Linked DNA regions of Homo sapiens: all the other regions are reported to be linked to region 4. Evidence: microRNA targets listed by miRTarBase, many of them from high-throughput screens and not tested one by one. Region 4 holds a microRNA gene; each other region holds the end of a gene's coding sequence. Distances are between the middles of the regions.

The links. The annotated mature microRNA hsa-miR-149-3p reads AGGGAGGGACGGGGGCUGUGC and lies in region 4 at 906-926, shown strand. An mRNA with a match to its seed (bases 2 to 7 or 8) in the 3' UTR can be bound and repressed. Matches are read on the target gene's strand: a 7mer-m8 pairs with bases 2 to 8, a 7mer-A1 pairs with bases 2 to 7 and ends in A, and an 8mer does both.
Region 1: miRTarBase lists C8orf82 as a target of hsa-miR-149-3p. Seed matches in the 3' UTR shown: 7mer-m8 at 2,433-2,439, 8mer at 2,291-2,298, 7mer-m8 at 2,084-2,090 and 7mer-m8 at 1,916-1,922.
Region 2: miRTarBase lists PJVK as a target of hsa-miR-149-3p. Seed matches in the 3' UTR shown: 7mer-A1 at 748-754.
Region 3: miRTarBase lists RAB1B as a target of hsa-miR-149-3p. Seed matches in the 3' UTR shown: 8mer at 497-504.
Region 5: the mRNA of DNAH17 is a reported target of hsa-miR-149-3p. The part of its 3' UTR that is shown has no 7-base or 8-base seed match.
Region 6: the mRNA of METTL14 is a reported target of hsa-miR-149-3p. The part of its 3' UTR that is shown has no 7-base or 8-base seed match.
Region 7: the mRNA of NDUFA7 is a reported target of hsa-miR-149-3p. Seed matches in the 3' UTR shown: 7mer-A1 at 639-645.

Annotation. Positions count from the first base shown.
Region 1 is chr8:144,524,738-144,527,804 of GRCh38, forward strand. It overlaps C8orf82 (chromosome 8 open reading frame 82), which reads right to left. Exons shown (of 3, transcript NM_001001795.2): 3 at 996-3,050. The coding sequence ends at 2,605. LRRC14 (leucine rich repeat containing 14) reads left to right here. Exons shown (of 4, transcript NM_014665.4): 4 at 1-435. It overlaps LRRC24 (leucine rich repeat containing 24), which reads right to left and starts at 2,296. Exons shown (of 5, transcript NM_001024678.4): 1 at 2,223-2,296; 2 at 79-296. The coding sequence starts at 237. RefSeq lists enhancers at 1-576, 1,309-2,165, 3,023-3,067 and silencers at 1-64, 2,091-2,480.
Region 2 is chr2:178,461,090-178,464,166 of GRCh38, forward strand. It overlaps PJVK (pejvakin), which reads left to right. Exons shown (of 7, transcript NM_001042702.5): 7 at 1-1,013. The coding sequence ends at 185. FKBP7 (FKBP prolyl isomerase 7) reads right to left here. Exons shown (of 4, transcript NM_181342.3): 4 at 2,575-3,077. Among named protein-coding and RNA genes, the nearest start is that of PJVK, 11 kb to the left of the region's middle.
Region 3 is chr11:66,276,054-66,279,117 of GRCh38, forward strand. RAB1B (RAB1B, member RAS oncogene family) reads left to right here. Exons shown (of 6, transcript NM_030981.3): 6 at 1-1,439. The coding sequence ends at 185. It overlaps CNIH2 (cornichon family AMPA receptor auxiliary protein 2), which reads left to right and starts at 2,122. Exons shown (of 6, transcript NM_182553.3): 1 at 2,122-2,484. The coding sequence starts at 2,404. It overlaps LOC107984340 (a long non-coding RNA gene), which reads right to left and starts at 2,472. Exons shown (of 2, transcript XR_001748274.1): 1 at 2,442-2,472. RefSeq lists a silencer at 1,898-2,227.
Region 4 is chr2:240,455,151-240,458,227 of GRCh38, forward strand. It overlaps MIR149 (microRNA 149), which reads left to right and starts at 851; the gene lies at 851-939. All of the region lies in intron 1 of GPC1 (glypican 1), which reads left to right. It overlaps GPC1-AS1 (GPC1 antisense RNA 1), which reads right to left and starts at 1,550. Exons shown (of 3, transcript NR_161169.1): 1 at 1,447-1,550. RefSeq lists enhancers at 151-801, 2,754-3,077.
Region 5 is chr17:78,420,999-78,424,060 of GRCh38, forward strand. It overlaps DNAH17 (dynein axonemal heavy chain 17), which reads right to left. Exons shown (of 81, transcript NM_173628.4): 81 at 2,699-3,062. The coding sequence ends at 2,908. All of the region lies in intron 9 of PGS1 (phosphatidylglycerophosphate synthase 1), which reads left to right. Among named protein-coding and RNA genes, the nearest start is that of PGS1, 44 kb to the left of the region's middle. RefSeq lists an enhancer at 1,552-2,131.
Region 6 is chr4:118,709,920-118,712,996 of GRCh38, reverse strand. It overlaps METTL14 (methyltransferase 14, N6-adenosine-methyltransferase non-catalytic subunit), which reads right to left. Exons shown (of 11, transcript NM_020961.4): 11 at 1-2,999. The coding sequence ends at 2,695. Among named protein-coding and RNA genes, the nearest start is that of METTL14, 26 kb to the right of the region's middle.
Region 7 is chr19:8,308,865-8,311,941 of GRCh38, reverse strand. It overlaps NDUFA7 (NADH:ubiquinone oxidoreductase subunit A7), which reads left to right. Exons shown (of 4, transcript NM_005001.5): 4 at 347-658. The coding sequence ends at 437. Among named protein-coding and RNA genes, the nearest start is that of CD320, 2.0 kb to the right of the region's middle. RefSeq lists enhancers at 1, 2,756-3,077.

The sequences.
Region 1 (3,067 bases), not on the chromosome of region 4:
GGAGGCGCTTACCCCGTTGCGGGGGTCTTCCTCTCCCTGGGGGCACCCCGTCCTCCCGCAGCTCCACACGGTGCCCACCTGCGTCCCTGGCGGGATTCCCAGCGGGACGACGCGCAACCGCAGGGCGCCACACTCCACCGTGGCGCTGTAGCAGCGGCAGGCTGCTGGGCAGCCGGCGGCGCGGAGCGGCAGTAGTAGCAGCAGCAGCGGCAGCAGTGCGGGGGCCCTCAGGGCCATCTCCCGAGGCCCGGTTCCTCACCGGCCCTTCCGCGGTTCAGCCGCAGACGCGTGCCCTCCTGAAACACAGGTTGGCAGGCCAGTCTCGGCAGTCGAGAGCCAGCCAATAGATGGAATGGAGGCCTGCACCTGCGTCTAACTTTTGACGCTATAAATAGGTTCAAGAAACTAATAAAACGTTCTGGTTTTCTCCTTTGACAAAAACATTTTCTTAAAGCTCTGGGGCATCAGGTTCAAATTTAGAATTCCTGGTGTCCTCAGTGTCTTCACAGGATGTGACCATGTAGGGAGAGCCACCCAACCCTGTCACCTTCTCCTTCTCCACCCATGCCCAGCAGGTCAGGAGCTTCCTGCTCAGGACGTGGATGTGTGTCGCTTGCTGCCCCCGACTCTACCCCCAGGCAAGTGGCTGCTGCTTGGTTCTAGGGTGCAAGAAGCTGGAAGTACAGGGTATGGCTTGAGAACTTTGCTTAGGTGACAAAGCCCGGGGTCCCATTACCCAAGCATGGCTAGGAGGGGGAGAGCAGGCCCTGGGCAGACACGCCTCCTTGTTATCCTGTGGGGGCCTGGGCAGAGCTGGCCTCAGAGGAGCTACGAGCCCCAGGGAAGTCAAGGCACAGCTTTGTCCAGCACCTGCTCCTGCTGGCCTAGGGGTGGGACCAGCTTAACTAGAATTGGGCCTTTTTCTCAGGTAACCTGTCAGAGAATTGGGGGATGAGAAAAATAATAGGAAATTCGGTTCAGGAGCCATGGGTCTGTGCTTCCCATGCCGGTCCCCAGAAAGGTGTCCTGTCTTTGGGGATAGATGGGGCCCTGGGAAAGCTGGGGTGGGACAGGGGACGCCTTGGGCCACCAACTGGGTTTCTGGTGTGGCTTCCCAAGTGGGCTCTGGGAGCAGTGTGACCTCTGAGATCAGCAAGGAGCAGGGAGTTTGCTGGGGGACCATATACATGTACTTGTCGTAAAGAAATGGGAAGGCTGGGGTCTGGTTTCAGGAACAAGGAGCCCAGTTTTAAAAGTAGGGATCTGGGCTAAGCCAGCCAGCCCACCCGAAGCCAGGGAAAACAGGGCTGCAGGTGTCCTGTCTCCCAGCCTCATCTGGCCGGCCTCCCCAAACATTTGCCTGTCCATCAGCTCTTCCTCCTTTCGAGTCATGTGGAAAGGGACAGGACCAAGTGGCCTTGGTGTTTAAATCTTGCCCTAAATTGTAACTCACATGATTATTTAAAGTCACTAGAAATAAGTAAGCACAGCAATAAAGTTTTAATGGAATAGCTTTGGCCCAGGCAGAGGCAGTTCCCAGATGTCTCAGGACGCGTGTGAACCCCAAGAAGTTGGGGGCGTTATCTGGGCCCTTGGGATCCATTCCCCTGGGTATAAAGTGTTGGTACGTGGCTCCAGGCCTGGCCCACTCAGCCTCCCCCAGGAAGGCTTCTCAAGTGGAGAAGGTTCTTGGCCTCAGAACTCACGGCGCTGCTGCTCACGCTGACCCCCCACTAGATGCAGATCGGTGTAGAAAGGCCTGCCAGGGCAGGGATGAGGGCCCCAAGCTGGAAGCAGCCCAGAAATCCTTTTACCAGAGGACAACTCCCTAATCCGCTGGGCAGGGGCGGGGTGTCACACGCAGGATTCCGCGACGACTGTCACTGCCTCCTGGGCGCCCCTCTGTGCGGGAGCGGGGAGGGAAGAGGATGGAACGCCCTGTGTCTGCCTCGGGCGCAGTGCGAGGCCCAAGCTGGTCTTTGGGCGGCCCTTGCGCACCTCTGCAGCGCTGCGACCTGGTGCCTGTATCCCCCACGGCCTCCTCTGCTACCCACGAGAGCCGGTTGATTTTCGGCCGGGCTCAGGGAGGGCGTGGCCTCCGCGTTCCCCATCCCCCTCCAGGACCCACGCCCTTCTCGGAGCGCACCAGGGTCAGAGCCGGGATGGTCCCCGATCCCCCAGCGCCCCCACGCCTGGTGACCTTGGGTCGGGCGTCCCCTCACCTGACGCTCCCGCGGCGAGCGGCTCCCCCGCCGTGCAGGTGGCGGCCGGGCCCGAGCAGTCGCCGGGCTGGGAGGGGGCGGGGGACGCTCGCGCACGCGCACCAGAGCCCCGCGCCCGCCGCCAGTGCCTGACGTCTCGAGCGCAGGCCAATCCGGAGGGCGCCGGAGTCGGGTGCGCGGGGGGCGCGCGCCGTGGGGAGCGGGGTGTCCGGGAGGGCCGGGCCGCGGCAGCACCAAGGACAGCGCCGGGTGGGGGCGGGGCCGAGCGCGCAGGCGCACTAGGCTGCCGCGAGCGCGGGTGGCGCGGGCTTTCCGGGGCGTGGAGTCCCGGGGGAGCGGGGCGAGAGGCGCCCGCGGCCTCCCGCCTTTCCCTTGGCCCCGCTCAGGGCGACCGAGCCGCGAGCAGCAGCGGGGCCAGGTCCATGGTGAGGGCGAGGCGGCGGCCCTGCCAGCGCACGTGCGAGGGCAGCGCAGGCGCGCCGGGCCCGTACTCGAAGCAGGCGCTGAGCTCGAAGGCCAGGGCGGAGCGCACCAGGCCCACGCCGCCCGCACGCTCCGGCGCCGGGTGGTACAGGCGCCCGTTGGCGGCCAGGGGCAGCAGGCGCGCCGGCTCGAAGGGCACGGCCAGGGCCTCGCCACCGCCGCAGTAGGAGAGGCGCGGAGGCCCGTGGTCCGCGGTCAGCAGGTGCGTGAAGACCACCGGCCGGTCCTCGCAGCGCAGGAAGTTGCGCTCTCTGCCGCAGGGCGAGAGGAAGGGGAAAGCGGCCTCGTAGCGCCCGCTGCGGTTGGGTCTCAGGCGGGAGAAGAAGGTGACCAGGAACTGCGGGTCTGGGGGATGAAGGGTG
Region 2 (3,077 bases), 62 Mb from region 4:
GGACCCATATCCGAGTTAACTTACTTAATCACAACATTCCCAAAGGGCCTTGCATACTCTGTGGAATGGGGAACTTCAAAAGGGAGACAGTTTATGGGTGCTTTCAGTGTTCTGTTGATGGTCAGAAGTATGTGAGACTTCATGCAGTTCCTTGTTTTGATATTTGGCACAAGAGGATGAAATAAAATGAAAAATGAATACACCGTGTTGGTGTTTTAGGTGCAGTTGTGCCACAAACCTTCCCTAAATTATCTAGGTTTGCTTTGATGAATTAAATTAAAATGAGAAAAGCAAAAAGAAATTAACCTGTCTGGGTATCATATTCCCTATCTATAAAGTAGCAATTATAACAGTAGTGTCTATTTCTTAAGTTGTCATGAAAATTAATAACATTGTTTATATCAAAAAAGATTTACATATAAAATTCAGAGATTATGAATCATGCCAGTCACTTTAGAATCATTTTTGGGATGTAGTCTATCATTTTAGTTCACCTTTTTTTTTTTTTTTTTTGAGACAGAGCCTTGCTCCGTCACCCAGGCTGGAGTACAGTGGCATGATCTCAGCTCACTGCAACCTCTGCCTCCTGGGTTCAAGCAATTCTCTGCCTCAGCCTCCCGAGTAGCTGGGATTACTGGCGCCTGCCACCACGCCTGGCTAATTTTTTGTATTTTTAGTAGAGACAGAGTTTTACCATCTTGGCCAGGCTGATCTTGAACTCCTGACCTTGTGATCCACTTTCCTCGGCCTCCCAAAGTGCTGGGATTACAGGCATGGGCCACCGTGCCTGGCCTAGATAACTTTTTATATAATTAAGAGATTTTTGTAAATACCAATTTTATTTTCAATCAACTTTCAGTTCAATATGTAAGGATGACAAGACTGCACAAGTAGCAACTTTTGGTGTTTCAACTATTGCCTTTGGTCTGGTAAAATGAGAAAAATGTGTTAATAATTTAATGCAATCTTAAATGTTTAATTGCAGTATCAAATTAAAAGCACACTGAACTCAACATGGGGTTTTGTGTACACAGTTAACAAGGTGACTGATAGTAGTAATGGGCTGCCATTCTATGATGTGGATATGCTCACGAGTTTTGTCTTCATAAAACGCAATACGGTCATTGTGAAGTTAAGACAGGTAAGACACATCTGTTTCTTTGAAAATGTTTAAAACATTTAACATATTCAATTCTGAAAGATCTTTTTAATCTACTCTGCTGAGAAATCTGAATTTTTCATACACAAACAACCTAAATTACTATTTACCTTTATTAAAATAATTATAAAATGAATAAAATGTTAAAATTCTAGAACTCAAGGCAACCCCCTTTGGGTCCCTCCTTGAATGGGAGCTCTGTTTTCACTTTATTTCACTGTCTTAAATCTTGCAACTGCACTCTTCTGGTCCATGTTTGTTAAGGCTCGAGCTGAGCTTTTGCTCGCCGTCCACCACTGCTGTTTGCCACCGTCACAGACCCGCTGCTGACTCCCATCCCTCTGAATCTGGCAGGGTGTCCGCTGTGCTCCTGATCCAGTGAGGCGCCCATTGCCGCTCCTGATCAGGCTAAAGGCTTGCCATTGTTCCTGCACGGCTAAGTGCCTGGGTTCGTCCTAATTGAGCTGAACACTAGTCACTGGGTTCCACGGTTCTTTTCTGTGACCCATGACTTCTAATAGAGCTGTAACACTCACTGCATGGCCCAAGATTCCATTCCTTGGAATCCGTGAGGCCAACAACCCCAGGTCAGAGAACACGGGGCTTGCCACCATCTTGGAAGTGGCCTGCCGCCATTTTGGAAGTCGCCCACCACCTTCTTGGGAGCTCTGGGAGCAAGGACCCCCGGTAACACTTTGGCGACCACGAAGGGACCTCCAAGGTGAATTGAAACTGTAAAACTACAAATGGTTCATCAAATGGAGCCCCAGATGCAGTCCATGACTAAGATCCACCGTAGACCCCCGGACCGGTCTCCCAGCCCATGCTCTGGTGTTAATGACATCGAAGGCACCCCTCCCAAGGAAATCTCAGCTGCACAACCCCTCCTATGCCCCAGTTCAGCAGGAAGCAGTTAGAGCAGTCATCGGCCAACCTCCCCAATAGCACTTGGGTTTTCCTGTTGAGAGTGGGGACTGAGAGGACTAGCTGGATTTCCTAGGCCGACTAAGAATCCCTAAGCCTAGCTGGGAAGGTAACTACATCCATCTTTAAACATGGGGCTTGCAACTTAGCTCACACCCAACCAATCAGAGAGCTCACTAAAATGCTAATTAGGCAAAAACAGGAGGTAAAGAAATAGCCAATCATCTATTGCCTGAGAGCACAGCGGGAGGGACAAGGATCAGGATATAAATCCAGGCATTCCAGCCAGCAATGGCAACCCCCTTTGGGTCGCCTCCTTGTATGGGAGCTCTGTTTTCACTCTATTTCACTCTATTAAATCTTGCACCTGCAAAAAAAAAAAAAAAAAAAAATTCTAGAACTCAAAATGTAGTCACAGCACTCAATGCCACATATATGCATATGAAGGCATAAGGCAATCATGCAGATATATGAAATACTTGTACACTGTATTGTATGTAGAATGATTATAAATTTATTTTTAATTATGTAAATACAAGTTTTAGAATGAATCATCTTCCTATTCATGTGGCATTATCTGTCATTTTTTAAAAACAAGTTTAAAAGCACTTTGTATGATAATGGGACAAAAAAATTAGAATTACAAAGTTTAGATTATAGGGTGACTTCTTAATATGGATACAAAAAATTGAGACAGGTTCCAAACCAAAATAAAGAATATTGAGTTACTTAGTTTACTTCAACGGAGCAGGTTTTTTTGAGGGAAGGCGATGAAAGAGTAAATGATTAAGCATGTGAAAAAGTATTAGAAAATTGAGCATAGAAATGAAGAAATATTGGGAGGAAGGAAAAGATAGTACAGATTCTTGTTTTATAAGGTGTCAAATTATGTGCTAGCCATATGTATTATTTACTAATCTCATGGTTGTGTTACCCCTATGTATACTTTTGTTTGTTTTTGTATGTACTCATCTGAAAGCCCTCTATTTTTAAA
Region 3 (3,064 bases), not on the chromosome of region 4:
ACTCTCTGGGCATCCCCTTCTTGGAGACGAGCGCCAAGAATGCCACCAATGTCGAGCAGGCGTTCATGACCATGGCTGCTGAAATCAAAAAGCGGATGGGGCCTGGAGCAGCCTCTGGGGGCGAGCGGCCCAATCTCAAGATCGACAGCACCCCTGTAAAGCCGGCTGGCGGTGGCTGTTGCTAGGAGGGGCACATGGAGTGGGACAGGAGGGGGCACCTTCTCCAGATGATGTCCCTGGAGGGGGCAGGAGGTACCTCCCTCTCCCTCTCCTGGGGCATTTGAGTCTGTGGCTTTGGGGTGTCCTGGGCTCCCCATCTCCTTCTGGCCCATCTGCCTGCTGCCCTGAGCCCCGGTTCTGTCAGGGTCCCTAAGGGAGGACACTCAGGGCCTGTGGCCAGGCAGGGCGGAGGCCTGCTGTGCTGTTGCCTCTAGGTGACTTTCCAAGATGCCCCCCTACACACCTTTCTTTGGAACGAGGGCTCTTCTGTCGGTGTCCCTCCCACCCCCATGTATGCTGCACTGGGTTCTCTCCTTCTTCTTCCTGCTGTCCTGCCCAAGAACTGAGGGTCTCCCCGGCCTCTACTGCCCTGGCTGCAGTCAGTGCCCAGGGCGAGGAATGTGGCCAGGGGATCCAGGACCTGGGATCCAGGGCCCTGGGCTGGACCTCAGGACAGGCATGGAGGCCACAGGGGCCCAGCAGCCCACCCTTTCCTCTCCCCACTGCCTCCTCTCCCTTCCTACACTCCCAGCTCGAGCCGTCCAGCTGCGGTGGGATCTGAGTATATCTAGGGCGGGTGGGCGGGTAGCAGTGCTGGGCCTGTGTCTTGAGCCTGGAGGGAGTCTGCTCCTGCCGCCCTCTGCCCTGCCAGAGACAGACCCATGCGCTGCCTGCCCACCGTGCCCCTTTGTCCCCATGTCAGGCGGAGGCGGAAGGCCCACCGTGCCAGAGGCTGGGCACCAGCCTTAACCCTCACTCTGCTAGCACCTCCTCCCTTTCCCCAAGGTAGCACATCTGGCTCACTCCCCACTCCGTCTCTGGAGCCCACCAGGGAAGGCCCTCATCCCCTGCCGCTACTTCTCTGGGGAATGTGGGTTCCATCCAGGATTGGGGGCCTCTCTGCTCACCCACTCTGCACCCAGGATCCTAGTCCCCTGCCCTCTGGCACAGCTGCTTCCTGCAAGAAAGCAAGTCTTTGGTCTCCCTGAGAAGCCATGTCCCTCGTGCTGTCTCTTGCCTGTCCCACCTGTGCCCTGCCCTCCAGCTTGTATTTAAGTCCCTGGGCTGCCCCCTTGGGGTGCCCCCCGCTCCCAGGTTCCCCTCTGGTGTCATGTCAGGCATTTTGCAAGGAAAAGCCACTTGGGGAAAGATGGAAAAGGACAAAAAAAATTAATAAATTTCCATTGGCCCTCGGGTGAGCTGAGGGTTTTTGCAAGGAAGTTGTGGTGGCCAAGTGTGGTCTGTGGTCTAAGCCCAGCCTTGGGGTGGGGGGATGGAACTGGAACCCTGGGCTTGGTGGGGTGCACGGGGGTCCTGGCTTGGTTTCTGTGTCCTAAGGCTGCTGGCAAAAGCCCTTGACCCCGTTTCCTGAGGCCAGGAAAGCTGCTTGTGCTTCTGTGGTCTGTCCCCAAGGGCCCAGCACCGTTCTGTCAGGGAAAGAGGCAGGCGGCCATCAGCTCATACCTGGCGTGCCGCCGCCAACTCCCGCGGGGCACACGGCAGAGGTGTGGGGTCGCGCAGCCGCTGAGAGGGCCCCCACTGCACCTGGCCCAACCTCCTTCAGCGCCCCCCAAAACCCCACTGCTCCCATTCAGCCCCTGTCCTGGCGTCATTGTGTGTCCCAGCCAGGTGCTTCTGCCGTCTCCGACAGTGACAAGTGCCTCGCACTTCAGCCTTTGCCCTGAGCGCCCGCCCGAGGGGGCCGAGTGCGGCTGTGCCGGTGGCTGGAGTGCCGAGGGGTGCGGGGTGCCGGGGGCGGCCGCGTCTACGCTGTCCGGAGGGTGAACGGCCGCGGGCTTGTCGGGGCTGGGGGTGGCGCCCGAGCCGGGCGGGCAGACGAGGGGCCCGCGGAGACCCAGCCCCGCCCGAGGCCGCTCGCGCGGCGGCCCCGCCCCCGGCTCCGCCCCGCCGGCTTCGCGGGCTGGAGAGCGAGGGAGCCGCGGGCGAGGGATCGCAGGATGAGCGATCGGGGCCCGGGCAGCCGGCAGCGGACGCGCCCCCCGAGCCCACCGGCCCGCGCCCCGCGCCCCCCACGGCCCCGCGGTCCCGGTCCCGGCCGCATCACCCACGTCCCCCGAGCCCCACGGGCCATGCCCGGCCGGCCCTAAGCGCGGGCCGGGGGGCGTCCCCTTGCGCCCGGGCCCCGCGCTGGCGCCCCCCGGGCCGCCGCCCGGCGCGGGGGCCATGGCGTTCACCTTCGCCGCGTTCTGCTACATGCTCACCCTGGTGCTGTGCGCCTCCCTCATCTTCTTTGTCATCTGGCACGTAAGGCCGGGCTGGGGCTGGGGCTGGGGGCGGGGTGGGGGGCAGGGGCCACGCGGAGCTGGAGGGACCCAGGGCGGGTGGTCTCAGAGCCCAGGGGAAACTTGCTATCCCCCAGCCGTCGGCTTGTCGGCTTCGCCCCCATTAACACCCCCCGTGGTCGGCTTTCTTCCCGGGGCCCCCCTTCCTCCGCCGCCCCCGCCTGTCTGTGTGTATGTCAGTCGGTCTCTGACCCCCTCCTCTGCCCTCGTCCTCTGCTCCCATGCAGCCCGTGAGGTGGGGGGTGGAATTCTGGCATTTTTGTTGCTTTATCTTCTATGTCCCCCCCCACCACCATCCAGCCGCCTCCATTAGTCCGTCGGGCAGTTTGTCTGTCTGCTGCCCCCCCCCCCCCGCCTTTGTGGGTTTTTCCAGCCAGAGTGATGGAGCTGGTTGCTATGGCAACTGCATCTGTTTACAGGACCCACAGATCTCAGAGTCCATTAACCCTTTGCCTTCCCAGCCCCCTCCCTGACCAAGCAGCAGTTGGCTCTCATCAGCCCCCAGAGACCTAGCCCCCACCACCGGCTCACCTTGGGTTTCC
Region 4 (3,077 bases):
GTGCTTTAACCTGAGGAGCAGGAGCCTGGGAACTGGAGACTCTGGGTTTGAGGTGGGGGATGAATCTGCCATTAAACAAATAATCCCCTTCCCCCCCAAAAAAATCCTCAGAGCACTGGGGAAGGGAAGTGTCCCAGTGACTGAGGGAGGGGAGCGCTGTGGAAGGATGGGTCGGCTACAGCAACTTCAGCCCAGGGATCAGGGAAGAGAGGGTCCAGTCCCTGGCCCAGCGGGGAGCAGGCCCGGTGACCTTGACCTGAGCAGCCCCAGGGCCAGAGGGAGGGGTGGGCCGGAAGGGCCCAGATGCCTCCCTGCACGGGGGGAAGGGGATGGGCTGCCGGGACTCACCCCCTAGGTTGGAAAATGCCTCCCTCTGGGTTGGAGGAGGAGAAAGGCCAGGAAGGAGAGGGAGAGGGACATGGGGAGGGTTCCCTCCTGGCCTGAGGCCTCTCTATCCCCAGGTGTTGAGCTGAGAGAAGTGGTGGGGAGGCCCCTGGGGGTGGGGAGGCCCCTGGGTGGGGAGATTTAAGATGACAGCTGGTCTTGGGCACATTGCTCTCCATTCAGAAAGGCCCCAGCCCCTGGCATTCTTCCAGGAGGGGGCTTGCTTTGCCGCCCTGCAGGGGGACTCTGCAGAGCCGGCCTCTGCCATCTCATGTCCAGGACCACAACCTGTGGCCCCGGCCTGCGCCGGGCCGGAGCTCCGCAGAAGGAAGCCAGCGGGAGGCCTCCTGCCTTTGACTGCCGTGCGTCCAGCCTGCAGCGGGCCTCAGGGGGCCGCCTCGATCCAGCCTGCCCGAGGCTCCCAGGCCTTCGCCCGCCTTGCGTCCAGCCTGCCGGGGGCTCCCAGGCCGGCGCCCGAGCTCTGGCTCCGTGTCTTCACTCCCGTGCTTGTCCGAGGAGGGAGGGAGGGACGGGGGCTGTGCTGGGGCAGCTGGAACAACGCAGGTCGCCGGGCCGGCTGGGCGAGTTGGCCGGGCGGGGCTGAGGGGTCGGCGGGGGAGGCTGAGGCGCGGGGGCCGGTGCGCGGCCGTGAGGGGGTGTGAGAGGTGGCTGACGGCGCCGAGGAGCCCCTCAGAACCTGCAGGTGGGGGGAGCTCCCATATCTTACGGGTGTTTCGGGCCTCACCTCTCCATGCCTCTCGTCAGCCTCTCCCGTCTGCGTGGTGGGGGCTGGGGAGTGGGTCCGCCGGGACCTCGCGAGGGAGGGGCACAGGAGGAGCCGGCGGGGGACGCCACCCACCCTCCTCCCTAGGAGTGCTTGAGCCCTAGTCCTGAGTCTTGGACCAGCTCACTCGGTTCCTGTGGCCCAGCCAGCCTGGCCTGGGTGCCCCGTCACAGCTGAGCCCATCTCAGCTGAGCCCAGGGTGTGTCACCGGGAAGCTCAGCTGGCACCTGCCACCCCCTCCCCCAGGCACGTTTCCCTCCCACTGCCCAGCCCATTACCATCATGTGTCCGGCTGACCTGTGCTCTCCTGGTCTGGGCAGCCTGGATGGGTGCACAGGGCCCCATCACAGCCCACACCCTCGGAGAGACGCCTCCTGAGTCTGCTCAGCCTGGCACAGGCCCCAGGAAAGGACCCGGAGGGGCGGTTCCTGCTCTAAATCCTGCCCCCACGGGGGTGGGACTGGGGCAGAATCCCATCAGTGAATAAAGGCTGCAGAGTGAAGGATGGTCCCTGGCGAGTGTACCTGTGTCCCAGTCTTCTTGCCTGAGGGCGCCTTCCCACCCATGTGAGGAGTGGGGAAGGAGCACCCCTTCTCTACTAGGCCCCAGGGCTCTCAGAGCCGGGCTCTGTCCTCACCCCAGCTGGCTCCCACAAGGCCCTCCTGGCCCCAGACTCTGTTGGACCCCCAACTCCCCCTCCAGCAGGCATCTGGAGGTAAGGAGGGGCGGGGGGCGCAGGTGCACTTGCCATTCCCGCTCTGTCTGCAGCATGGGCACATGTAAGTCCAGGCCCTGGGGAATCCCTGGACCTGCAGCCCCTGCGGAGGACTCCCTCCCCCTCTAGCTCAAGCCAGAGCCCCCTGCATCAGTACATTCCAGAACTCAGACAGGAAAAGAGGGCAAGGAGGGAGCGCTCCAGGATAAGAACCCCTACCTCGGCCCTCCCTCGCTCTCCCAGGCCCCTCTGACAACCTGTCTCCTTGCTGTCATGTCAGCAGGCACAGAGGCTACAGGGGCCAAGCGGCAGCCGCCCAAGCCCGGATTCGGGTTCTCTGTTCCCTTCTCTTGTCTCGGGCTCCTCCCTGAGTGTGTGTACTTAGAGGGTGCGGAAGATCAGCAAACTCAGTCTGACCCAGGCATTCAACCTCTGGGTAGTTACCTAGTCCTGGGTCCCCACCCCAGATGGCCTCTAGTGGGTAAGGGCTTCCTGGACCCCAGGCCTGAGGGGTGACTTCTCTTGCAGTAAGCGGGTAGGGCACTGCCTGCGCTGCTCCAGGCCCTGCCTGCAGTGGGGCTACAGATCCCTGCTCCCACCTCCAGGCAGGGCTGGAGCTGCTGCCAGCTCCCCCAGGACAGCCTCGAGCCAGGTGCCTCTGCCCGGGCTGACCCCGCCCTCGGTCCCGGTCCTGGCTCCCTCTCCTGCCTCTCCTCCCTGGCCTGGCCTTCACTTCCTGCTGACCCTCAGGAGGGCGTAAAAGAATGCAGGACCTGCTGCATTCCAGCCACCCTGGCCCAGGGTCCCAGAACAGGATGAGACAGGCCCCTGAGGCGGCAGTCCTGAGGAAAGTTGCTGGAATTCCTGCTGACAACGCCCCCCCTTGACCCCACCCCTCTGACCAAGCCAGGCTCCTGCTTCCACCTCTCCACTGTGCCTGACCTAGGCCAGCACCAGGAGGGCCTTAGAGGCGGGGGACGAGGCCCAGAAGGAACAGTGTGGCCCCGTCAGTGTGGAGTCCTGAGCTTAGGCAGCCGGAACCACTTGCCCCCTCACTGTATAGCTGGGACGAGACCTCATCCCTGTAAGCCCCGGTTTTCTGGTTAATAAAATGAGGATTGCGGCAGCCTTCATCACAGTGCGATGCACACCCTTTAAAAAATGCAGTTTTTCCTGATGCCACACACCCATTCC
Region 5 (3,062 bases), not on the chromosome of region 4:
AATTAATTTTTTCGATTATTTGACTTGAAGTCCAATTAAGGACTACACCTTGTGATTGTTTTTTCCCTAGCAATTTATTTTTTGAAGAATGAACTTTATTTTTATTGGATCTACTTAAAACATTTTTGTGTCACCTAGTAGCAGGGGATTTTGAATACATGTCATGTGTGTTTATAAAGCCAGCTCTCCATATCCCCCAGTGTCTCCAGGAGCTGCTTTTGTGACCTCACTGCCTGATCTCTTTATCATCTTCAGGTGCTTGACCCTTGCACAGAGAGAAGCTTCCTGGGCTACAGGGCATGGCAGCCTGTCCTTTCGGGGAGTGAGATTAGATTTAGTCCCTGCACTTTGCCTCTCTAGAAGCAGCTTCTCGCCTTTCCCTCCCGAGGGCTGGCAGGAGTCACTGTCACCCTTCATGGGGTCTGAAAGGTTGCATAGGCTCACCTGGTCTTAGACAAGGACAGTTGCAGCTTCCGCACCAGGCAGACCTGCAGTTTGAGTGGCTGGGGATAGGTGGAGCGGCGGCCTGGCCACAGTGCCCTGGACAGCAGCACATCACATCAGTTAACACTGTTTGCCTTCCAACTAGTTATTACGGTGTCCTGTGGGACAATTAGACTGGAGGAGCCAAAGGAATGTGCAGGGGCACTGGGTTTCTGTTTGGAGAGAGGCTCTCGGTAAACAGAGTTCGCATTCCTCCAGATTCTGTGGGACCAGAGTAAATATCATTATGCCACAGCCAGGCTTAAGCAATCTATCTGCAGTGCCGTTCCCGCAGCGCACACTGCTCCCTCTGTCTCTGCTGATGACCTTCGAGGCTGTCCTAGGCAGGTTCTCCCTGAGGAGCTCCCCACACCAAGCCTCCCTAACTCTGCAAAGCAGCCGGAGCAACAGAGAGCAGCGGGCGGCGGGCGGCGGCCGCCGCAGTCCTCCCGGCTTTCTAGGTGCGCGGGGCTGTCGTGTTCCAGTCCCTGTGTTCCCCGTCGCTGGAGTGCAGCTTAAGTGCGAATCATTTCTTGGAAAGTTTAGAGATAATTTTGTCAACTACCCACAATATGTATGTGTGGACTAGATTACTTTCTTATTTCAGGATCTAAAGGCAAAATGGAAAAACGTCACATTTTGTGGTTATTACCAGGGACTGAAGTGAGTTGCCCGGTGGCCCCTGGTGGCTTTAGCTCCCCTGGTCACCTGAAGGGCTGCAGTGACCCCTCCTGGCCAGCAGAGGTATTGGCCCAGCCAGGCTGGGGGAGGCTGAAACTGCTTCCCTTCTCTGCAGCCACAAAGGGCTGGATTCCTTGGGCGCCAGGAGGGGAGGATTTTTCTTTTCCCTCCGATAGCCCTACTGGGCGCTAAGATTGTTGTGAATCATTACCCTCAGAATTTGGACTTTCTAGATGCTTCTTAACCCATGATTTAGGTGAGTAAACTTGGAAAAATGTTTTTGCAAAACTTGATGATCAAGCTGAACGTAGAACGATATTCCTAATGGGTGTGTTTGCCTTTTTTCCCCCTTTTGAGACAGGGTCTCACTCTGTCACCCAGGCTGGAGTGAGTGGCATGATCATGCCTCGCTGCGTACTTGACCTCATGGGCTCAAGCGACCCTCCTGCCTCAGCCTCCTGAGTAGCTGGGACCACAGGCACATACAACATTCCCAGCTAATTTTTTGTATTTTTGATTGATAGAGATGGTTTTGCCACGTTGCCCAGGCTGGTCTTAAACTCCTGGGCTCAAGTAAGATTGCCGTCCTGGGATTAGAGGCGTGAGCTGCTGCAGCGGCCTGCTTTTCTTTGAAGCCTGAGAAATGTTGAGGGCCGGGCACAGTGGTTGACACCTGTAATCCTGGCGCTTTGGGAGGCCGAGGTTGGTGAATCACCTGAGGTTAGAAGTTTGAGACCAGCCTGGCCAACATGGTGAAACCCCATCTCTACTAAAAATAAAAAAATTAGCTGCGTGTGGTGGTGGGTGCCTGTAACCCCAGCTACTTGGGAGGTTGAGGCAGGAGAATCGCTTGAGCCCAGGAGGTGGAGGTTGCAACGTGAGCCGAGATTGCGTCATTGCACTCCAGCCTGGGCGACAAGAGTGAAACTCTCACTCTCCCTCGAAAAAAAAAAAAAATGTTGATCCTGTCTTGGTCCCCCTGGGATCCGTCTTTTCTGACGTTTGCCGCTGTCTCCCCTCATCCCCCAGGTTGCTAGTTAATTCTCTCCCCTCGTGCCTGCACCCTGCTGCCCTAGCTAGCCTGGCCACCTCACTGCCGTGTCCTGCATCAGCCCAGCCACAGAGTCCTACAGGTCCGGGGCTTGCTTGTGGGAACGGCTTGTTCTTCTAGACTCTGGGGGCGGGGGCTTGGGTGTGTTTCCTTACTTGTAAAAGGTCCTGTTGTTTTTGGGAGCAGGGAGTAATGGCGGATGAGACGCTGTGTGGAGGCGGCAGCTCCTGGTATGGGGTAACGCCCTGTCCCCTCATTGGCAGGTGGTTTGCATGAAGCATCAGGCCAGAGGGTGTGAGTGCCAAGCCCTCACCCCACATGCTGCTCCTGTTAAAAGCAAACTCCACTGACCCCCCCGGGAAGTCAGGATTTGGGATTTACTTCCTGGAATGCTTGCCTCTGGCTGCTGGGAATTGGGGCCTTTCCCCAAAGCCTGAACCAGGCCTCACAGTGGCCATCAGGCACAGAATGGATGGGCACAGCTGAGTGGCTCCACTGGCTTTAATCTGCCCCACCTCTTCCACACCAACCTCCACCCTCTGGTTCCGATGTGCTTGGTTACAAAGCACCTGATTATTTAAGAGAACGAAAAACCACCACCAGTTCCTGTAAAGAATAAGTCACAGGTGCACAGGTGAAGGGCTGAGTTGTGGTCCAGCCCCAGGGAGTGTGGGCTGTGAGGCAGGAGCGAGCTAAACCTGTAGGAGCAGCGCCACGGCTGCCAGGATCCACTTCGCTGCCTTCTCTTTGGTCTTCAAGTTAAAGGTCCAGACATAGGTGGGGCCGCGGATGCGTGTTTTGTACACGGGACACTCATAGATGTTCTTGGTCTCCATGCGGTCCACAG
Region 6 (3,077 bases), not on the chromosome of region 4:
TAATCTGATTCATTTGTGTTTAGGTATGGTATTCCACACCATAAAATCTGTTCTCCTGACATCATCAACTACCTGCCCTCTTCTTTCTCCACAGTGAAGAAGAGTAAAAAAGTATTCCTACTCAATCAGTACTTTGGGCCTCCTAATCCCCATCCTCTGAAAGGAGGAAGGTCAGTGGGAAAATGGTTCTCACTGGAAATAAATAACAACAGTTGGTTTGGAATACCATGAATTATAATTCTGTAAAAACTCAGACATGCTGATCTTCTAACTTCTAAACTAGGTTATTTCACAATAATTAGCTTCTATCCCCAGTAAGGAATTAGTGCATAAAGCAACTAAAAATTTATTTCTATACAATTTTTTTTTTTTTTTTTGAGACAGAGTCTCACTCTGTCGCCCAGGCTGGAGTGCAGTGGCACAATCTCGGCTCACTGCAACCTCCGCCTCCTGGGTTCAGGCAATTCTCCTGCCACAGCCTCCCGAGTAGCGGGGATTACAGGCGTGCACATGCCACCACGCCCAGCTAATTTTGTATTTTTAGTAGAGATGGGATTTCTCCATATTGGTCAGGCTGGTCTCAAACTCCTGACCTCAAGTGATCCACCCACATCGGCCTCACAAAGTGCTGGGATTACAGGCATGAGCCACCATGCCCAGCATTTCTAAATAATTTTGTGGAATGTAAGACATGTAAATATAAAGAAGACCAAAAATTAGAAGAGGTCAGAGTAATGAAATTTCATTGGAAACCTTTCCTCAATGAATACACAGTCATTGCAAAAACAACACCTCAACCTTTACTGAAAGTGAAAGTTAGCAAAAACTAGTGAATCAATTCCATCCTGCTATTAAAAAGGCCAGATTCATTGTCAAAGGGATAAATTCTGGGTCTTACATTCTTTTTCCACCATCTGCTCTTTTTTAAATAACTTTTTCCTAAATATGGTAGATCATGGCTCCCCTTAACTTTCAACCGACAAAGCAGCCATACCTACCTCTTTCTAAGATGAAATTGTGACACTGATCTCACAGGTGCCTATGCCATGTAAACAGCAGGAATGTCACCTTGGGTAGGCCCAGGGTATGGAACGTAATAGAGAGCCCTGTGTATAGGACAGGGTCACTCCTTAGCTGATACTTCTAAGGACCCATCACAGGCAAGTGGAATTTCTCTATCCTGACTTCATTCCCAGGTCAATGCTGACATATAGAGTTCTAAATCTAGATAATTTGTAATTAGTGAAGTTGAAAATATACCATAATTTCAGCAAAAAAAAAGGGGTCTTGTACTAGATAGTACTAATGGGTTAAGCGAGTTAAATTAATTAGGCTTTTAAGGATCTCAGCCTTATTTCTTCTATCACTCATTCCTTATCTTCAAACTGAGTCTTTGGTGGATGTAATATAATCTCATCTTAGGTATATATGAGCACAGAACGGCCATTAAAATCCATCACAGACCAAAAGAAGAGACTGATTTTAGGTCAGTCCTTTTTCATTTTGTAACAACAGTAATTCTACTTATAGAAAACAGACTCTCAAATCTCAAAAGTTTAAAGTTTCATTAGAAAAATCATAAAAATAAGAAAAGTATTCATCAAGAATGATAATAGTATAATTTCATTATCAAATTCATTTAAAACATGAATTACAGTACAGCAAGAGAAGTGACAGCATAAAGTCTTATATAATTTTAAAAACAAACATCACACCATATGGTTTTAATAAAAGGCAATTGCAGTTCCAATTTCCAAGCTGTATCCTTAAGTTGAGGGTTTTCCGTAGTTGGTTTTACATTAAACTATCTCCATAACAAGTTTAAAGGTGTATGTCATTTCATCACCAAGTATTTTAGTCCCAAAATGTATAAACCAAGCATCTGATAATGAGGTATCTTGTCGCTGCCTCTCTTTTATTTGAGGAATATAAAATTTAAGGTCAATCCAAGTTCAAGTCCACACCACAGTGCTATCTAGCACATGAATATTTGTCCTCCTTTGCTTCTTAGGAAGCGTGATTAGGAGTCATAGCCACAAAATTGAGATTATGATGATAAACTTTTTTTTTTTTTTTAAGTCTGCCTGCTAAGTTCTATCTCTTCTTTCACCCACCCCTGGAATCTCCACCTCCCCTATCAAATTTAGATTTGGGAAGAGTTTTTGTTCAAAGTCTCTTAATTTCTTCAGTATTCAAATTATATCTGAGTTTATTTAAAACTTAAAAAAAAAGAAGAAAAAAGCTTACCTCTTTTTATTGTTTCATCAAGAAAATGTTAAAACCCTGACAAAAGCTTACCATCTTTTCCAACTCTATTCTATCAAGGCCCTGTCAGCACTAGCATGATACCACAGACTGGATCTTTTTCCATTATTTATTCCCAAAAATTAGCAAAATCCTTTGTAATTAGCTGAAGTCTATCAGAATAAATTCAGTCTCTGAAGATGAAGCTACTTGAGTTGTTCCATTCTGTTCACGCACATAACAAAAGGCAGAATCATTCATTTATCCTGAAAAAAACCAGACAGTGTGTGTGACAACTGCAAGCAAGGCTCGCTAAGACATTCTTGCAGCTCAGAGAAATTAAAGCAAAGTGCAAGCTGGAAGTGAGTTCTAAAGTTAAGTCTCCCACTTGAAATTTAATTACAATAAAGAAGGTTAGAGGAGGATGAATAGGTTCAATGTCTTCAACAATTATCGAGGTGGAAAGCCACCTCTGTGTGCTCCTCCACGGCCCCCTCTAAAGCCACCTCTTTCTCCTCGGAAGTTAGATCTATTTCTTTCTCGTCCACGGCCAGCAGAAGTTCCACCTCTTCCTCCACCTCTGGGAGCTCCACCTCCTCGGTCAGATTTAGATTTGGGAGGAGGCGATTTTGGTCGAAGTCTCTCAATTTCTTCTGTACAACCAGTCAAGTAGGAATTAGGAGCACTGAAATAGGATGCATATGTTTCTGCATTGTAGTTGCTATTTGTAAGCGTTGGTCCAACTGTGAGCCAGCCTGAAATGGAGGAAAAAAAGATTATACTTTTTATTTGCAATTCTCTCTTATTAATTCTTTAGAAGCTAGTTCAAATCC
Region 7 (3,077 bases), not on the chromosome of region 4:
GTTTTGAGGGGCAGCAGGAATGGGGGTGGGGGCCTTGTGTACGCTGGAGACCAAAAGTGGGAAGGGAGGAGCCCAGCTCTCCACAGTGGGTTCTGGGCCTGGGGGCCACAGCAGGGGGTTCATACAGGGCTCAGGGGAGAGAGGAGGCTTGCTAGCTCCCACCTGGCGTTGGCTGATCCTCTGAGGGGCTGCGTTGGAGGGGTTGGCATTCTGGAACACCCTGCTGTCTGTCCTGCAGGTCCAGAAAGTCCCTGTGGGTGTGTTTGTCCCGGGGCAGGTGTGGGCTCCCTCAGATCTTTCCACACTGTTCTTTGGAAACCCTCACTGAAGTCTTTCCCTCCTCCAGCTCTGCTGTAGCTGCCACTGAGAAGAAGGCGGTGACTCCAGCTCCTCCCATAAAGAGGTGGGAGCTGTCCTCGGACCAGCCTTACCTGTGACACTGCACCCTCACGGCCACCCGACTACTTTGCCTCCTTGGATTTCCTCCAGGGAGAATGTGACCTAATTTATGACAAATACGTAGAGCTCAGGTATCACTTCTAGTTTTACTTTAAAAAATAAAAAAATAGAGACAGAGTCTCACCATGTTTCCCAGGCTGATCTTGAACTCCTGGCCTCAAGCGATCCTCCTGCCTTGACCTCCCAAAGTGCTGGGATTACAGGCATGAGCCACCACACCTGGCCTGATTTTATTTTTATTTTTTAGACCTTCCCACTGAGGCCTCTGCTTGACCTTGGTCACCCTGTAGCTCAACGGGGAAGGCAAAGGACAGTGAGGGCTGCTTACAGGGAAGGCAGACCTAGGGCAGATCAGGAAAGGCCTCCCTGAGCCAGAAACCATTATGCTGGGGCTGTGGGATGAGAATGAGTTAGCTCCAGAAGGAAGGCAGCTGGTTCCTGGGGAGGAGATAGAAATCTGGCTGCAGGAGCCAGAGTTTTCGCGCTTGTCACCCAGGCTGGAACGCAACGGCACGATCTCAGGTCACTGCAACCTCTGCCTCCTGGGCTCAAGCAATTCTGCCTCAGCCTCCCGAGTAGCTGGGACTACGGGTGTGCACCACCATACCCGCTAATTTTTTTTTTTTTTTGTAGAGATGGCCAGGCTGGTCTCAAATTCCTGACCTCAGGTGATCCGCCCGCCTTGGCCTCCCAAAGTGTTGGGATTACAGGTGTGAGCCACCACGCCTGGCCCCTGATTTTAAGCAATACCCAGCTTACTTGGATTTTGGGGTGAAGTCAGTGCTGAGTCTCCCAACTCTGTTGGCACTCCAGGGGTGGGACAGACACTGTCCCTGGGTGCAGAGGCCCTGGAGACAGCACTGCCCTTTCCCCCAAAGGCCAGGCTCTGACCTTGAGAGTGGTGGGAGTGGGTGATCCTTCTGGGAGGTTGGACTCCCAGGACCGCTGGCTGTTGGGGAGCATTGATTGTGAAGACCAGTCAGGTGGGGTAAGGGGTGTATGTGCGGACACTCAGTAGGCCAGCCACAGACTTCTCACTTCTTTTTTTTTTTTGAGACAGAGTTTCGCTCTTGTTGCCCAGGCTAGAGTACAATGGCGCGATCACGGCTCACTATAACCTCTGCCTCCTGGGTTCAAGTGATTCTCTTGCCTCAGCCTCCCGAGTAGCTGGGATTACAGGCGCCTGCCACAAGCCCAGCTAATTTTTGTATTTTTAGTAGAGACGGGGTTTCGCCATGTTGGCCAGGCTGGTCTCAAACTCCTGACCTCAAGTGATCCGCCCACCTCTGCCTCCCGAAGTGTTGGGATTACAGGCGTGAGCCACCGCGCCTGGCCTAACTTCCATCTCTTGAGGGCTCCCACAGCCACTTCTCACATGAACCTTCCTCAGCACCTTCCCACTGAGGCTCCTGCTTGACCATGGTCACCCTGCAGCTCAACGGGGAAGGCAGAGGACAGTAAGGGCTGCTCACAGGGAAGGCAAACCTAGGGCAGATCAGGAAAGGCCTCCCTGAGCCAGATCCCATTATGCTGGGGCTGTGGGATAAGAATGAATTCGCCCCAGAAGGAAGGCAGCTGGTTCCTGGGGAGGAGACAGAAATCTGCAAAGGGAGGGTGTCCAAGTCTGGCTGCAGGAGCCACCCAGTGACCCTACGCAGGGGAGTGTCATGGCTTCCCCAGGGCACAGCCCCAGACCCTTCAGCAGCTAAAAAAGATCAGCTGTGGACCAAGAGGGTGCTGAGACCGCCCTGCCCTCTGGAAGGGGAAAGGCCACGGCTACAGGCAGCAGGTACCAGTGTCCCAGAGTGGGTCCTACAAAGGCTAACACCTTCCTGGAGAAGGTGGGATTCTGCTTGGGGCAAAAGGATGAATCAGATTCAGAAAGGTCAGGAGGGAAGGAAAGACTAGGCAGGGTGTGCAGAGGCCACAAGGAGGGCAAGACCCTAGGCAAGGCATGCCGCTGACGGCATCTGAACCAAGTTTTATGACCACAACTTTTTTTTTTTTTTGAGACAGAGTCTCACTCTGTCACCCAGGCTGGAGTTCAATGATGTGGTCTCGGCGCACTGCAACCTCCGCCTCCCGGGTTCAAGCGATTCTCCCATCTCAGCCTCCCTAGTAGCTGGGACTACAGGAGCATGTTACCACACCCGGCTAATTTTTGTATTTTTGGTAGAGACGGGAGTTTTACTATGTTGGCCAGGCTGGTTTAGAACTCCTGACCTCGTGATCCGCCTGCCTCGGCCTCCCAAAGTGCTGGGGTTAACAGGCGTGAGCCAGCGCGCCGGCCAACTTTTCTAACAAATGGGGTCTCACTGTCACCCACGCTGGAGTGCAGCCCCAAGTGATTCTCCCACCTCAGCCTCCTGAGTAGCTGGGACTACAAATTAGAGCCACCATGCCCAGCTAATTTTCTTTTTTCTTGAGGCGGGCGGGGACTTGCTGTGTTGCCCAGGCTGATCTCGAACTCCTGGGCTCAAGCGATCTGCCCGCCTCTGCTTCCCAAAATGCTGGGATCACACACGTGACCCACCGCGCCCGGCCTTTATTATTAAATTTAATTAATTAATTGATTTCCTTTCCTTTTTCCCCCCCAAGCAACCCGACTCCGAGAATGG